3 separate regions of the Homo sapiens genome follow, and regions 1 and 2 are each linked to region 3. Evidence: fine-mapped expression QTL. A gene starts in region 3. Each other region holds a variant in brackets. All regions are shown on one strand. Distances are from middle to middle.

What was found. PIP is the estimated chance that this variant, and not a neighbour inherited with it, causes the effect.
Region 1: its variant is the best candidate, but not a certain one, in a credible set for the expression of LINC03066 in prefrontal cortex (BrainSeq, PIP 0.85).
Region 2: its variant is the best candidate, but not a certain one, in a credible set for the expression of LINC03066 in testis (GTEx, PIP 0.66).

What each region holds. Positions count from the first base shown.
Region 1 is chr6:140,132-145,355 of GRCh38, reverse strand. It overlaps the pseudogene SEPTIN14P6 and the pseudogene CICP18. Among named protein-coding and RNA genes, the nearest start is that of LIRIL2R, 38 kb to the left of the region's middle. The variant A/G (reference allele first, on the strand shown) is at 2,516.
Region 2 is chr6:169,024-174,247 of GRCh38, reverse strand. It overlaps the pseudogene ANKRD18FP. Among named protein-coding and RNA genes, the nearest start is that of LIRIL2R, 8.8 kb to the left of the region's middle. The variant T/C (reference allele first, on the strand shown) is at 2,205.
Region 3 is chr6:203,434-208,657 of GRCh38, reverse strand. It overlaps LINC03066 (long intergenic non-protein coding RNA 3066), which reads left to right and starts at 3,174. Exons shown (of 8, transcript NR_126020.1): 1 at 3,174-3,771.

The sequences.
Region 1 (5,224 bases), 63 kb after region 3:
GGCTGAGGCAGGAGAATGGCGTGAACCCGGCGGGAAGAGGTTGCAGTGAGCCAAGATCGCACCACTGCACTCCAGCCTGGGCGACAGAGCAAGACTCGGTCTCAAAAAAAAAAAAAAAAAAAAAAAGAGGAAGGCCTTACTCCGTCCCAAACTGAAAGGATTAAATGGCTTCACCTGGGAGAAGATAACCATCCTGCCCTCCATTGCTACCCCCACATACTGTCCATGTTCTCAGGGGGTACTGTGAGTCCTGGGATCTTTGGGGTTGCCCACCTGCCTGTGGTAGTTATGGAGACCCCCAGGTGTTGAGGCAGGGCTGGGGTGTCCCCTTCCAACCAGGCTGTCAAGGCCCCAACTCTGGGGCAGAGGCAGTGGCAGGGCAGCCAGGTTTGTGCCAGAGCCTGAGCAGGTTGAGGTGGGGTCAGGCAGGGCTGGGAGTCAGGGCAGGGGCAGCAGCAGTGGACCCGCTATGCACACATCTTCTTCTCCAAGGTTTGTGTGCAGAACATCCTGCCCATGCTGACCCAGCAGCTTCAGTTGGCACCTGCCCCAGTCCAGCCTCTGGGAACCATGCAGCAGCTCCCAGCGGCCCTGCACCCACCACCAGCATCCGTTTCACCTGCAGTTGAAGATCCGTGAGGTGCCCAGAAGATCATGCAGTCATCAGTCCCACGGAGCAGCCCGCGAGGCTGAGGCTCCTCCCACTGGACCGCCCCCCAACTGGCACCACTGCTGCCCCTGCCCCTACTCTCAGCCTCACGTGACTCTCGGGCAGAGGCAGTGGTGGGGCAGCCAGGGCAGCGTCAAGAGTCTGAGCCAGGTGAGGTGCGGTCAGGACCCCCACAGGGCTGGGAGTCAGGGCAGGGGCAGAACAAACCTTGGAGGGGAAGATGTGTGCATAGTGGGCCTGGAGGGCGGCTGTGGCCTAGTGGACAGGAAGAAGCAGTGGGCCTGGAAGAGCTGCATGATCAGGGCCGGCACTGGTCCAGGGCACGTGCAGTGAAGAGGACAGCTCCTTCTCGGTCTCCGGTTCCCTGAGCCTGTCCTCGGCTTCTCCACCTGTACAGGCAAAGGGGAAGCTGTCCCCATCACACATGGCACACTTGGGGGTGTTGGGCTTTGGACTGCAGCTGGAACATCTTCTCATCTTGCATTTGGGCGTGGTGGGGTCCTCCAGTGTGGGATCCATGTCCGTGGGGTTCCCTCTGCCCCGACCCCTAAAGCCCAGTCAGTTTCTCTTCAGGCTCTGCTCCCCGGGTGGCTCAGCCCAGCTCCTGCCTAGGAAAGCCTTAGTGTTGGGAGGGACCCTGATGACTGAGGAGCCTGGTAGCTCCAGGTCGCCCACACTTTCAGGTCTCTTGCACCAGAAGGTGGCAGGATCCATTGGGAGGAAACAGGCCACCTTGGAAGGCGTCCCTGGGCCCCCATCCCCAGGGGTTGGGGCCGTAGGGGGCCCGCTCTGCTGCGTTGACCAGACTCCTGGGCTTTGAAGGCTCCTGGGCCCAGTAAGAAGGAGGTGGGCGCCAAGGTTGAGGAGGAAGCATCCGAGTATGTGTAGGAGGAGGACAGGGTGTGACCATAGACTGCCAAAAGCTGCAGGTGGATCGGGGGACGCTGGGGGCTCAGGATCCAGCAAGGGGCGGCAGGAGTAAAGGAGGAAGGAATGACAGGTGCAAATACCTTCCCACCAAAGCCCTTGTTGCCCTCTGGCTCCTCCCCAGAGCTGTCCCCACTCTCAGTCGGTCACCCACTCCTTGAACTTGAGATCGGTGTCGGTGGTGCTAAAGCCATCATCAGCAATGACATCATCACCCCCTCCTCCTCATGGATGACCGTGTGCTCCTCGTCACTCGCTGTGTCCTCACTGGCCATGTGCTGGGAATGAGCAGCTCAGGTGGGCAGCAGCAGGGCTGCCCACGGGTCACCTCCCTCACCAGGGGCTGCAAAGTGGCCTGGAGCTCCATGCTGAGTAGAAGGCTTTGGGCCAGAGTATGATGCAGTGCCAGACACCACCTGTGTCAGTTCCCGTAGTGCCTGACGGTCTATTTCCCTGCCGTCCAGGCTGTGTACCCCGCTGTGGGAGAAGGCTTGGGCCAGGCTGAGCCAGGTTCCCTGACTGTGTGCAGCCGTTCTGCCCCACAGAAGCTGCTCCTTGGCATCCGAGCTCTGGAGTGTTTGGGCTGCAACTGACAGGAGTTCAGAGGACGCCCCAGGGGCAGTGGCAGTGCCCGTCTCTGATATGCTCCGCTCCCACGAGCCCTTGTTACACTGCTGCTAGCCCCTGGCTTGTGGGCTTGGCCTCTGAGCTGGACTTCTTTCGGTCCTTGTTGCAAGTGGGCCACCTTCACCTGGAAGGCCAGGTCGTATTTCTGCATCTCACTGGGCCCCAGGGTGTACCACCGCTCGCTCAGCATCTGGCTGACGGTCCGGTTATCCTGGTTGGGGTGACCCTGGTGCGCCCCGCCAGGGCCTGGTGCCGCTTGCTGAAGATCATGAGCGCCACTCATGGGCCACC[A/G]GATGTGGTCCTTGTCCCATTTGTTGGGGCTGCGTCCATCCTTCTCAGAAGATGAGTCCTGTTCCTTGCGCAGGGCACTGAGGGACTGGGCCTGACATCATCTGAGTGGTAGAGGCAACTGGGTGTCAGGAGACATGATGGAGAGGAAAGCATCATCATGGTCATTCTCTGTCTCACTGTCCAGCAGGGACTCCCCTGAGGGGCCCAGGGCTCCTCCTCCATGGTGGGAGGTGAGCTTTTACCAGGTTCCACCACCCCCAAAGTGTGTGGGGTTGCGGGCCCTGGGCTTTCAGGGCAGGTGGCTCCAGGGGGCCGCCCAGGGTCAACACTCCCTGTCCCACCTGGTGGACGCTCATGAGCAACAGCTGGCAACTTGGCAGGTTGTTTTCTCTGGTTGCAGGCCACTGAGTGACTGGCAGGTTGCTGGGCCTCGTGTGGCTGCAGGGAGGGGTCAGGAAGGGGATGGAGTACCAGGGGAACACAGCCGCAGAGTGACCTTCCACATTCCTCCACACGAACATGCTGACGCCACGGGAGGCCTCACTGAACGCAGGCCTGGGGGCCGAGTACTTGGTCCGGGCAGGGGGTTCCTGGCAGGGGCTCACACCTCCTCGCCCCCTCCTCAGCCAAGGTGGCTTGGGCCCAGAGAAGGGGAGGTTGGAGAGGAGCAGAAGGCCAGGCCTCAAGTTTTGTTTTTTTTGTTTGTTTTGTTTTTTGTTTTTGAAATGTAGTTTGACTCTTGTCACCCAGGCTGGAGTGCAGTGGCACGATCTCAGTGGCCTTCATACCTGGCTAATTTTTTGTATTTTTACTGGAGGTGGGGTTTTGCCATGTTGGCCAGGCTGGTCTTGACCTCCCGACCTCAGGTGATCCACCCACCTCAGCCTCCCAAAATGGGATTACAGGCATGAGCCACCGCTCCCAACTTCATTCCTTTTTACTTGAAAAACTCCGTTAAGCATTTTTTTAAGGTAGACCTAGTGGTCCTGAATGCCCTCAGCTTTGTTTGTCGAGGAAACACGTTATTTCTTTTTTCTTTCTGAAGGACAGCTTTGTCAGACATAGTATTAGTTGCTGGCAGTTTTTTTCTTTCAGCACTTTGAATGTATTATTCGATTCTGTCCTGACCTGCAAAGTTTCTTTAACTTTTGACTATTTGATTATATTGTGACTTGGTGAGTATCTATTTGGTTTGAACCTCTTTAGGAATCTTTAAGCTTCATGGATTTAGATGTCTAAATCTTTCCCATGATTTAGGCAGTTTTCAGCCATTCTTTAAATAAGCTTTCTTCTCCTTTCTCTACTTTCCTTCTCAAACTCCCATAACCTGACAATGGTTTGCCTAATGGTGTCTTGTTGGCTTTCTTTTCTCTGTCTCTTTTTTTTTTTTTTTTTTTTTTTGAGACAGAGTCATGCTCTGTCACCCAGGCTGGAGTGCAATGTGTGGTCTCGGCTCACATTGCACTCCAACCTCCGCCTCCTGGGTTCAAGTGATTCTCCTGCCTCAGCCTCCCAAGTAGCTGGGACTACAGGTGTGTGCCACCACACCCGGCTAATTTTTGTATTTTTAGTAGAGATGGGGTTTTGTCATGTTGGCCAGGCTGGTCTTGAACTTCTGACCTCTTAATCTGCCTGCCTCGGCCTCCCAAAGTGTTGGGATTACAGGCTTGAGCCACCACGCCCAGCCTTCTTTTCTCTTTTTTATTCTTTTTTTCTTTGTCCTCTGACTGGATAATTTCAGAAGATCTATATTCAAGTTTACAGATTCTCTCTCCTGTTGAAGTTTACTATTGTGTTATATCACCCAGTCTGGTCTTGAACTCCTGGGCTCAAGCGATCCTCCCACCTTGGCCTCCCAAAGTGCTGAGTTTACAAGCATGAGCCACTGCATCCAGTCAGTCCCAGCACTTTGGGAAGCTGAGGTGGGAGGATCACTTGAGCTCAGGAGTTTGAGACCAGCCTGGGCAACATACTGAGAACTTGTCTGTATATTAAAAAAAAAAAAAAAGTCTTTGGGAGGCCAAAGCGGGAGGATCACCTGAGGTCAGGAGTTCGAGACCAGCCTGGCCAACATGGCAAAACCGCATCTCTACTAAAAATACAAAAATTAGCCAGGTGTGGTGGCACACACCTGTAGTGGTGGTGCATGCCTGTAGTCCCAGCTACTCAAGAGGCTGAGGCAGGAGAATCACTTGAACTGGGAGATGGAGGTTGCAGCGAGCTGAGATTGCACCAGTGCACTCCAGCCTGGGCAACAGAGTGAGACTCCATCTTATAAAAGGAAAAAAGAAAGAAAAGAAAAATTCCATATCTGAGTGTTTACTCCTGAGTTTTTGAGATTGTTATTAAGATCGTGCTCTACTGTGATGATTTGGGTTTGTTTGATAATCAGAAAAAAGCATATTCTTTTGGGTGTTCAGCCACACTGCTTTGGTGTCACAACTGCACATTGGTTTCACAGCTGCAGGACAAATTCGAGCATCTTAAAATGATTCAACAGGAGGAGATAAGGAAGCTTGAGGAAGAGAAAAAACAACTGGAAGGAGAAATCATAGATTTTTATAAAATGAAAGCTGCCTCTGAAGCACTGCAGACTCAGCTGAGCACTGATACAAAGAAAGACAAACATCGTAAGAAGCAATAGTTTCTCTTACTATTCTGAGAGCCTTATCATTCTACATCCCATCTTCCTGTGAGATTGTCTTTGTA
Region 2 (5,224 bases), 34 kb after region 3:
CATCATTTGTATGTCTTTTTTAAAAGTCTATTTAGATCTTTTACCCTTTTTTTTTTTACTGTCACATTGAGTTCCTTGTACATTCTGGATATTAGTGGTCTATTATTTGCTTTTTGCCTTTGCTTTTGATGTCTTACACATAAAATCTTGGTGCAGACTAATGTCCTGAGGCATTCTCCTATGTTTTCTTCTAGTAGTTTGATAGTTTGGGGCCTTACATTTAAGACCTTAATCCATTGTGAGTTTATTTTGGTATATGGTGTCTGGTTTTATTCTTCTCCATTGGCTATCCAGTTTTTCCAGTGCCATTTATTGAAGAGGGTGTCCTTTCCCCAACGTATGTTATTGGCACCTTTGTCCAAAATCAGTTGCCTGTAAATACGTGGATTTATTTCTGGGTTCTGTTTTCTATGGCCTTGACCCAAAGAATCATTACTTCTTGAAATGCAATTCAAATTAGCATAAAACATTTGAAGTTTAGGGAAAAGCTAATGGCATTAGAATCCTCATAATCTGTATTAGTCCATTTTCATACTGCTGATAAAGTCATACCTGAGACTGGGTAACTGATAAAGAAGAGAAGGTTTAATGAACTCACAGTTCCATGTGGCTGGGGAGGCCTCACAATCATGGCAGAAGGTGAAAGGCATGTCTTATGTGGCAGCAGACAAGAGAGAAAGGAGCGCCAAGTGAAAGGGAAAACCCCTTATAAACTCATCAGATTTCATGAAACTTACTGACACAAGAATAGTATGGGGAAAGCCACCCCCATGATTCAATTATCTCCCACGGGGTTCCTCCCACAACATGTGGGAATTATGGGAGCTACAATTCAAGATAAGATTTGGGTGGGGACAAAGCCAAACCATATCATTCTGCCCCATCCTCTTCCAAATCTCATATCCCCACATTTCAAAACCAATCATGCATTCCCAACAGTCCCCCAAAATCTTAACTCATTTCAGCATTAACTCAAAAGTCCACAGTTTGTGGACTCATCTGAGACAAGGCAAGTCCCTTCTGCCTGTGAGCCTGTAAAATCAAAGGCAAGTTTGTTACTTCCTAAATACATTGGGGGTACAGGCGTTGGATGAATACATTCATTCCAAATGGGAGAAATTGGCCAAAATGAAAGGACTAAAGGCCCCATGCAAGTCCAAAATCCAGCTTAACAGGCAAATCTTAAAGCTCCAAAATGATTGTCTTTGACTCCATGTCTCACATCCAGGTTATGCTGATGCAAGAGGTGGATTCTCATGGTCTTGGGCAGCTCTGCCCCTGTGGCTTTGCAGTGTACAGCCTCCCTCCTGGCTGCTTTTATGGGCTGGTGTTGAGTGTCTGTGGCTTTTCCAGGTGCATGGTGTAAGCTGTTGGTGGATCTAGCATTTTGGGGTCTGGAGGATGGTGGCCCTCTTCTCACAGCTCCACTAGGCAGTGCCCCAGGTGGGGACTCAGTGTGGGGGCTTAAACCTCACAGTTCCCTTCCACACTGCCTTAGCTGAGGTTCTCCATGAGGGCCCTGCCTCTGCAGCAAACTTTTGCCTGGACATCCAGGCATTTTTATACATCCTCCGAAATCTAGGTGAAGGTTCCCAAACCTCAATTCTTAACTTCTGTGCAACCACAGGCTCACCACCATGTGGAGGCTGCCAAGCCTTGGGGCTTGTAACCTCTGAAGCCACAGCCTGAACTGTACCTTGGCCCCTGTTAACCATATCTAGAGTGGCTGGGATGCAGGGCACCAAGTCCTTGGGCTGCACACAGCAGTGGGGGCCTGGATACCTACAAAACCATTTTTTCCTTCCAGGCCTTCAGGGCTGTGATGGGAAGGGGCTGCCCAAAGTTCTCTTACATGCCCTGGAGACATTTTTCCCATTGTCTTGGTGATTAATATTTGGCCCCTTGTTATGTATGAATATTTCTGCAGCAGGCTTGACTTTCTCCTCAGAAAAAAATCTTTTCTATCACATTATCGGGGTGCAAATTTTCTGAACTTTTATGTTCTGTTTCCCTTTTAAAACTGAATGCTTTTAACAGCACCCAAGTCACCTCTTGAATGCTTTGCTGCTTAGAAATTTCTTCCACTAAATACCCTAAGTCATCTCCCTCAAGTTCAAAGTTCTACATATCTCTAGGGCAGGGGCGAAATGCCACCACTCTCTTTGCTAAAACATAGCAAGAATCACTTTTACAGTAGTTCCCAA[T/C]GAGTTCCTCATCTCTATCTGAGACCATCTCAGCCTGAATTTTATTGTCCATATCATTATCAGCAGTTTGGTCAAAGGCATTCAACAAGTCCCTAGGAAGTTCCAAACTTTCCCACATTTTTCTGTCTTCTTCTGAGCCCTCCAAACTGTCTCAACTGCTGCCTATTACCCAGTTCCACATTTTTGGGTATCTTTACGGCAGCACACCACCCTACTGGTACCAACTTACTGTGTTAGTCCATTTTCATGCTGCTGATAAAGACATACCTGAGACTGGGTAATTGATAAAGAAAAAGAGGTTTAATGAACTCACAGTTCCACATGGCTGGGGAGGCCTCAGAGTCATGGCAGAAGGGGAAAGGCATGTCTTACATGGTGGCGGACAAGAGAGAAAGGAGTGCCAAGTGAAAGGGGAAACCCCTTGTAAAATCATCAGATCTTGTGAGATATATTCACTACCACAAGCCCAGTACGGGGGAAACCACTCCCTGGATTCAATTATGTCCCACCAGGTCCCTCCCACAACATGTGGGAATTATGGGAGATACAATTCATAATGGGATTTGAGTTGGGATACAGCCAAACCATATCATACTCCTTATTTACAGGACGCATTAATTTGTCTTTTTTTGAGATATGATCTTTCTCTGTCAGTCAGGAAGGAGTGCAGTGGTGTGGTCATGGCTCACTGCAGCCTTGAACTCTGGGTTCAAGCCATCCTCCTGCCTCAGTCTCCCAACCAGCTGAAACTACAGGAATGCGCCACCATGTCTGGCTAATTGTTTTTAACTTTTTGTCATTGTTTTTAACTAATTGTAATTGTTTTTAACTAATTGCTTTTAACTTTTTGTAAAGATGGGGGTCTCACTATGTTGCTCTGGCTGGTCACAAACTCCTGGCCTCAAGTGATCGTTCTGCTGCAGCCTCCCAAAGTGCTGGGATTGCAGGCATGAGCCACCACACCTGGCCTAGATTATTATTTTCAGAGTCTTATTCTGAGAGCCATTTATTGACCTTGGCCTAAATAACTCAATATGATGTCCCTAAAACTTCTTTAGAAATTATTGGGCATGATCATGAAGGAAGGAGATTAGAAACTTTCTACTAAGAAATAACTTAGAGTCATTTAGGGAGGAACAAAAATAAGCAATCAGAAAAATAAAAGTGTAAGATCAAGTGCAAAAGTTCTGTGGCAAAGATGATAAAAGTAACTAATATATCTTTTTGACTCTTGGTGGCTTTAACTTTGTTCTTGATTTTCTGAGTAATTTAAGCGTTCACGTTGGAAGAATCTACCGCATTATAGATAACATTTTATTGCAAGTAAATGTATTTCAAAATTTGTTACTGGTTTTATAATAAAATAGTGTCAGCCTACTTCATTATCAAGCTGTACTATTTTATTTATGCAGTTTGATGAACTTACAGCAGAGCTGGAAACTATATCTTCAAAAATGTCTATATTTGGCTAAAAAGAATCAAGTTATTCAACAGGAGTTATTATCTATGAAAGAAGTACAACAGAAATGTAAAAAACTTGAGGAGGTTAACAAAATTTTGGAACAAGAAGTAGTGAATCTTAAGACACATGAAAAAAATATGGTAGAATTTGGTGACGTAGAAGAATGTAAATTGCAGTTGGAAGAAAGAGCAGGACAGGAAATAGAAAAATTAGAAGAAATCAATTTACAGGTTAGTTTTTTTAATCAGGTAGGTTTATCTGTAATGTGCTTTCATTTATTTCACTGCAAATTATAATATAGACATACAGTGTTTTGTCTGCCTCTCTTATAGGAATTTGCTTTGTAGAGTTTTAGAAAAAAAGGTGGCACCTGTTTCTTATTTTAAATATTTAAATTTCCATCATGATTATAACTAAGTTGATCTTTCAGAGTAGTGAGTTTCACTATACAGTCATTTGGTTATTAAAACCAGTTAGCATAAGACTATTAGAAAAAGAAAACTCTGATTTAAAATTATATGGTACTTTTGAATTGGTCTTACGCTACATTGTTCAGTTTTTAACATTTCCAATGGATTCTATTATTTTTAAATGATTAGATTACATGAACACTAACAAGAATGATTTCAAATTTTTATAATTCATATTTAATTCTGAATTCTGTTATCAATTTAGATGAAATTGCTAATAGATGTTTTAAACTTCAGCCCCTTTTTAAAACACATATTTAAAATTGCTTTCTGAATCACTGACTCAAAATGAAAGGCAACAAATAGAGACTAATTAGGTTATAATTGTTTTAAAAGTATGATTTTTTATTTGTTTTAGAAACAAGCAGAATATGAAAAACACAGCAGTTAAAAGAGAATAATATGGCTTTGATGAATAAAAGAGAACTCTGACTGAAAGACGTGGAATGTCAATTCTCCAAAATGAAAACCGCTTATGAAGAGCTTACTACGGAATTAGAAGAATATAAGGAAGTCTTTGCAATAACATTAAAAGCTAACAAATCCATGTCAAAAAATTTAAAGAAATAAGTCAAAACATACACTTGTAGAAAATCAATCAAGTTCATTAATTTGCCATGAAAGCATAATTTTTAGTGAGACAACTTCATGAGATTAGTAGGAAGTGAAAGCTATCCTGATAGTATAATTTTTGAAAATAATGCTAGTAAATAAACTTACATTTAAAATGTTAGTCAAGGACAGTTTCTGTCTCTTCCCTCATTTTTTTTTTAACTTTTGTATGGCCTTTTCCCCTGAAAAATCTTACGTAGTTAACCTAGTCTATTAGTCTTTTAGCATTTTTGAAGCTTTATGGTCAATAAAGTGATCTTGCTGTAAAATTACTTTTCAGAATTCTTCTAAATGGAAATATTAATGAATTTAATTTGTTTTTTAGTAGGTCACAATCTAAACTCAAAGTGCCCAAACTACTACTATTCTGGGCACGTCCTGGCATTTAGTAACTTAACTTTCCTGATTGTGATTTTTAGTATTATCACTAGAGGGCGCTTTGAGACAAACTTTTCTGTATAGTTTTTTCAGTCTAC
Region 3 (5,224 bases):
TAGAGGGTCACGTCGGATCATGAATAGCGTTTGGAACTGCTAAACACGCATTCAGTAATCTCATTTGTCAAGGATGGGAGCTCAGACCACAGGGCCTGTCTGAGACACAGCTGGGAAGTTTTTTTCTAGTTTCCCTTTTCTGAAAATCTGCTCCCACTCGGTGGTTTCTCCTGCCTACCACTGGCACCCAGCGTCTGGATATGTTGCCTACTGCACTGCCTACCAAGAACGCGTCAACGTTATCCCCATGTTGTGTGAGAGCAGGAAAAGAGGGTCTCCATCTTCGAGCTGAAGAGTCTTTCCCAGAGTGGATGTGCAGCCACCACCTGCCCAGGGGGTATTTTCCCAGAGCATCATTTCTACTCTACAAAGAATTTTAAATTTTGTGGGGTTTATTTTGTTTGTTTGTTTGTTTGTTTTTTGAGATGAAGTCTTGTTCTGTTGCCCAGGCTGGAGTGCAGTGGTGTGATCTCGGCTCACTGCAACCTCCGCCTACTGGGTTCAAGTGATTCTCCTGCCTCAGCCTCCCGAGTAGCTGGGATTAAAAGCATGGGCCATCAGGCCTGGCTAATTTTTGTATTTTCAGTAGAGACGGGGTTTCACCATGTTGCCCAGGCTGGTCTCGAACTCCTGGCCTCAGGTGATCTGCCTACCTTAGCCTCACAAAGTGCTGAGATTACAAGCATGAGCCACTGCACCTGGCCAAATTTTGTTTTTATATTTAAAAATACCTGGACATATGGCCAGGAGCAGTGGCTCATGCCTGTAATCCCAGCACTTTGGGATGCTGAGGCGGGTAGATCATTTGAGGTCAGGAGTTCAAGACCAGCCTGGGCAACATGGTGAAACCCCATCTCTACTGAAAATACAAAAATTAGCTGACTGTGATGGTGGGTGCCTGTAATCTCAGGTACTCAGGAGGCTGAGGCAGGAGAATCACTTAATCCGGGAGGTGGAGGTTGCAGTGAGCCAAAATCATGCCACTGCGTGATCTGTCCAGCCTGAGCGACAGAACAAAACTCTGTCTAAAAACAAAAACAAAAAACCTGGACATACCAGAAAATAAAATGCAGAGGTCATTAACATTTTTAGCTTTTCTTTTCTTTTTTTTTTTTAAGGAACCTTAAAGAAATGCTTGTGTTTAAGACAAACAGGCACTCCACATGATTCCCCTAAGCTCTGACGATGTTTATTTGGGTACAGCCTCCTCAGTTTATTTGCCTGGGGAGGAAACTAAGGCCCAGAGAAGTGAAGAGACTCTCCCTCCTCATGGCTCTGTCCTCTGCGAGGAAGAAGCATGGACGTTGCTGTCACTTTGTCTCCAACGCACCCTCAGTGCCTAGAACAGTGACTGGTACCACTCCCTGGCATCACTCACTAAGTGCAGGTTGAGTGTCCCTTATTTGAAATACTTGGAACCAGAAGTGTTTCAGATTTCAAATTTTTTTTGATTTTGGAATATTTGCAGAATTCATTCTGGCTGAGCATCCCTAATCTGATATCCAACATCCAAAACGCTCCAGTGAGTGCCTTCTTTAAGGGTCGTTTTGGTACTAAAACAGTTTTGGAGCATTTTGTATTTTTGGATTAGGGATGCTTAACCTGTATTTACTGAATAACTCAATTAATTTTAAGAGGCGAAAGGACCCATAAAGCCTCTGAGTTGCCTAGGAAGTGGCCACATTAACTCCAAGGATGAGGCGGACACCTTCTCGGGGCAGGATCGAACTGTTTCTGATCTTCAGCATCTGGCCCCATAAAATGAGAAGGGTTTTGCCTTGGGGTGAAACTGACCCTGGCATCTCCCTGGAGATGAAAAGCTCCTTATTTCCTAAAGATTCTTCTCAGAGCCAGAGGAAGTATGCTGAAATAGTCACAGTGATCATTTCTCATGAAGAGATATGAGTTTTACCCTCTTTTTAACTTTCTTCCTAATTTTTAAATAATAAGGTTGTATCACTCACAAAATAAGAATAACTTTATAGCACTCTGTATACATACATATATATGTGTATATATGTGTGTGTGTATGTATATATATATGTGTGTGTGTGTAAAGTCAGCAACAACAAGCCTTCCCCAAAGCGGCACACTGTCTGCATTTCTTCAGTGCCAACGTGAGGCACTTATGGGCATCCCCAGGGACTTGTGCGCCAGGCAGCTCCCATCGGCCCCGACGGCCAGTCCTGCCCACATGTGTGACATATATGGTGCTCCCAGACCTCCAAGGTTTGGTAAGAAAGAAAAACACTTGGACAACACACAGCCAGGCCGTGAACGTCACTTAGAAACGGGACCCATAAGAGCGACCTTCCCTGCTTCTCACGAGCCAGTGCATGCCCACACCAGTCCAGGCCTTTTCTTCTTCTACTGAGTGCTGCTTCCCGTCTCAGCTGATAGCACCACCACTCGTAGGTGAGTCCCTGTTCAACAGAACTCAGAGCTTTGCATCCATGGAGTGCCATGAACAAAAGTCACCGGTGTTTCTTAGGGAGAGAACTGCTTTTGCTCAGGGTCAGGATGCCCCACCTGCTTGGGGTGGGGAAGTTGAAGCTGGAGGAAGAGCTGGCTGCTCTGCAGAAGTTCAGAGGAATTGGAAGATGGGGCCAGGGAGGATGTGAGGAAGGGGAGGAAGGCAGAGACGGTGCAGGTGACTCAGCAGGAGGCTGGAGTCTAGAGGGAGAAGCTCCTTGACTGGGGTTGCTGAAGGGGTTTTAGAAATGAGGCTGTCAAAAAACATCACAGCTGCCTACTGCTTAATTTCTAGCTGACTCTGTGTTTCTAACCGTCTGTAGAGACTCCACACAGATAAAGCCCCTGTGCCACGGATTCTAGGGGGACGGGGCAAGAAGCCCAGTGCCAGGGTAGGAAGGAGGCCTTGGGAGGGGAGGCTGAAGAGTGAAAACTCAGGAGCAGATGCCGGGAGGCAGAAGTGACATCTGAACACACAGCCTCCGAGACAGTCCCTGGGTGGGAGACACTGAGGTTTCTGTTGTGCGCTGGATACGGCTTAAGCCTAATTTTACCTCAAATTTCAAAGGCCAGGGCGATCCAAGCTGATATTTGAGTTCCATTACCAGGCATATTCCTTACAACAAGAAGAATGTAAATTCTGTGGAAATTCTAGAACTTCTTTTTTACATTTAAACACAATTCCTTTGTTCCCATATCCTGAAATCAGTAAATTTAAGCAATTTTATTTTTCATTCTGTGCTTCAGGGATCTATGAGGGTCAACACATATTTATCACACGCTGACCTTGTGCTCAGGCCTATAGGAAAATGAACCTCCCTGCCCGCAATGACCTTAGAACCTAACTAAGGATATGGTTAAAACAAGCGCAGGATTGGGTGAGACCTGCTCAAGGGTCAGGCGCTGGTTTGTCGGGGAGAAATGTTGCCCAGGAAGGACAGGTGTGAAAGAAAGAGAAGATCCTGCAAGACCGGAGGGCCCAGGAAAGTCTGGGGGACTCAAAGGAGAGTTTCAGGATTGACCATGGGTGGACAGGGCTCTGCAGACCAGGATCTTTTCTATGCACACTTGGGGCCAGAAAGTTCTTTGTGGTGGGGGCTGTCCTGTACAATGCAGGAAGCTCAGCAGCATCCCTGGCCTCCACCCACTCAATGCCAGTGGCACTCCCTCCCTAGTTGTAAATGTGTGCAGACATTAGTACTTGTCACCTGCAGGGAAGAATCACCCCACTGAGAACCACATGCTGAGTCAAGGCAACAGCATAGGAATTGGAGCACGCAAGAGAGCTGGTCAACACAGGTGAGCTCTTGTGTGGGCCTCTCTATGGGCCTCCAGCCAGTCCCCAGACAACTCTGCTCTGGGCACCAGTGGCCACGTTCTCAGGGCAGGCACTACTGGTGATCATTCTACTCACACCTCTCTCTGGCATCAATGGCCTGATTACACACTGGGGATAGTAGGTAGTAGGTATATTTAGAGGGGCACAAAAATAACCGTGGCTGCCAAGCCAAAAAATTCAGAATTGCTCTCCTTAGTACAGGTTTAATATCGCTAATCTGACTTCAGAGTTTTGGATTAGGGATGCCAAACTGGTAAGTATAATGCAAAGATTCCAAAATCCAAAAAATCTGAAATACAAAACACTTCTGGTGGCAAGCATTTGGGACAACAAAGTGTGGTATATTTCTGATGAGATTTTGTCGTGTTTCAGAAAAATTAATTTGATAGTGATGTGCCCAATTGAATGCAAGGAAGGAGCAGGGTTTTCTGACCTGGTGATTGTGGATACGCCTCAGGAGGCTGATGACAATGAAACTGCGCCATCATTGTGTGGGTTCATTTGCTTTTCTGAGGAGGGATTCCATAGATTTCATCCGACACTCCACAGGTTGAGAGCTCTTGGATTCAACTGGTGCCCAAACACAAGACAGGACCACCAGTGCATATTTGAATAGGACAATCCTTCTGCCCATCCATCTGGTCCCTGCTTCCACTTCCCACAAGCAAACATCCAGTCCACAAAACTCATTGAGCAGCTGCAGTGAGCTGTGTGCCAAGCATGTGCCAGGGACTGGAGCTGCAAAGAGAGATGGAGGCCACAGGGAAGAGGCCACGAGATAGTCAGTTGTCTCATGAAGTAGAATACAGGTGAAGCCAGATTATCACAAGCCATGAAAACCTTCTGGAGGTGACGTCTGAGCTTTGTCTTGCCAGTTGATCTCGCTAGAATACATACGAAGTAAAGAGGGGCCTGGAATTGCTGGTGGCTGAGGAAATGGGAGAGGAAAAAGCATGCCGGACAGTCACGGTGCAGGAAGCCCTCATCACTACTAAGACTTACTGACTAATCGCACACGGGGGAAGGAAGCTTGGGTGGCCGTGAGTCAAGGATCCAAGCCTGGAAGCCTGCAGACAATACTGACTGGGGTTGGCAGCAGAAAGGGGAGGACGTTTTGAGTGGGAAGACAATGAGTTTTGGTTTTAGATATCTTGAGTTGAAGGCAATGAGAGGATACCCAGAGACTATTCAGAACATCTTGAGAGGAACTGGGAATACAGGACTGCTGCTGGGGACATGTCAGGGAAAGAGGTGGGCAGAGAGGAAATGGGTCTGTTTTCTCAGGGGCAGTGAGGGGCACCGTCGAGCCAGCCTTCCACAGCTCTGGTTTCTCTGGGCACTTTCTTTCATGGGCTTCTTTGTGGGTCACAGACATGTTCGGTGGGGAGAAAAATCTCAGTAGAGCAACCTTCA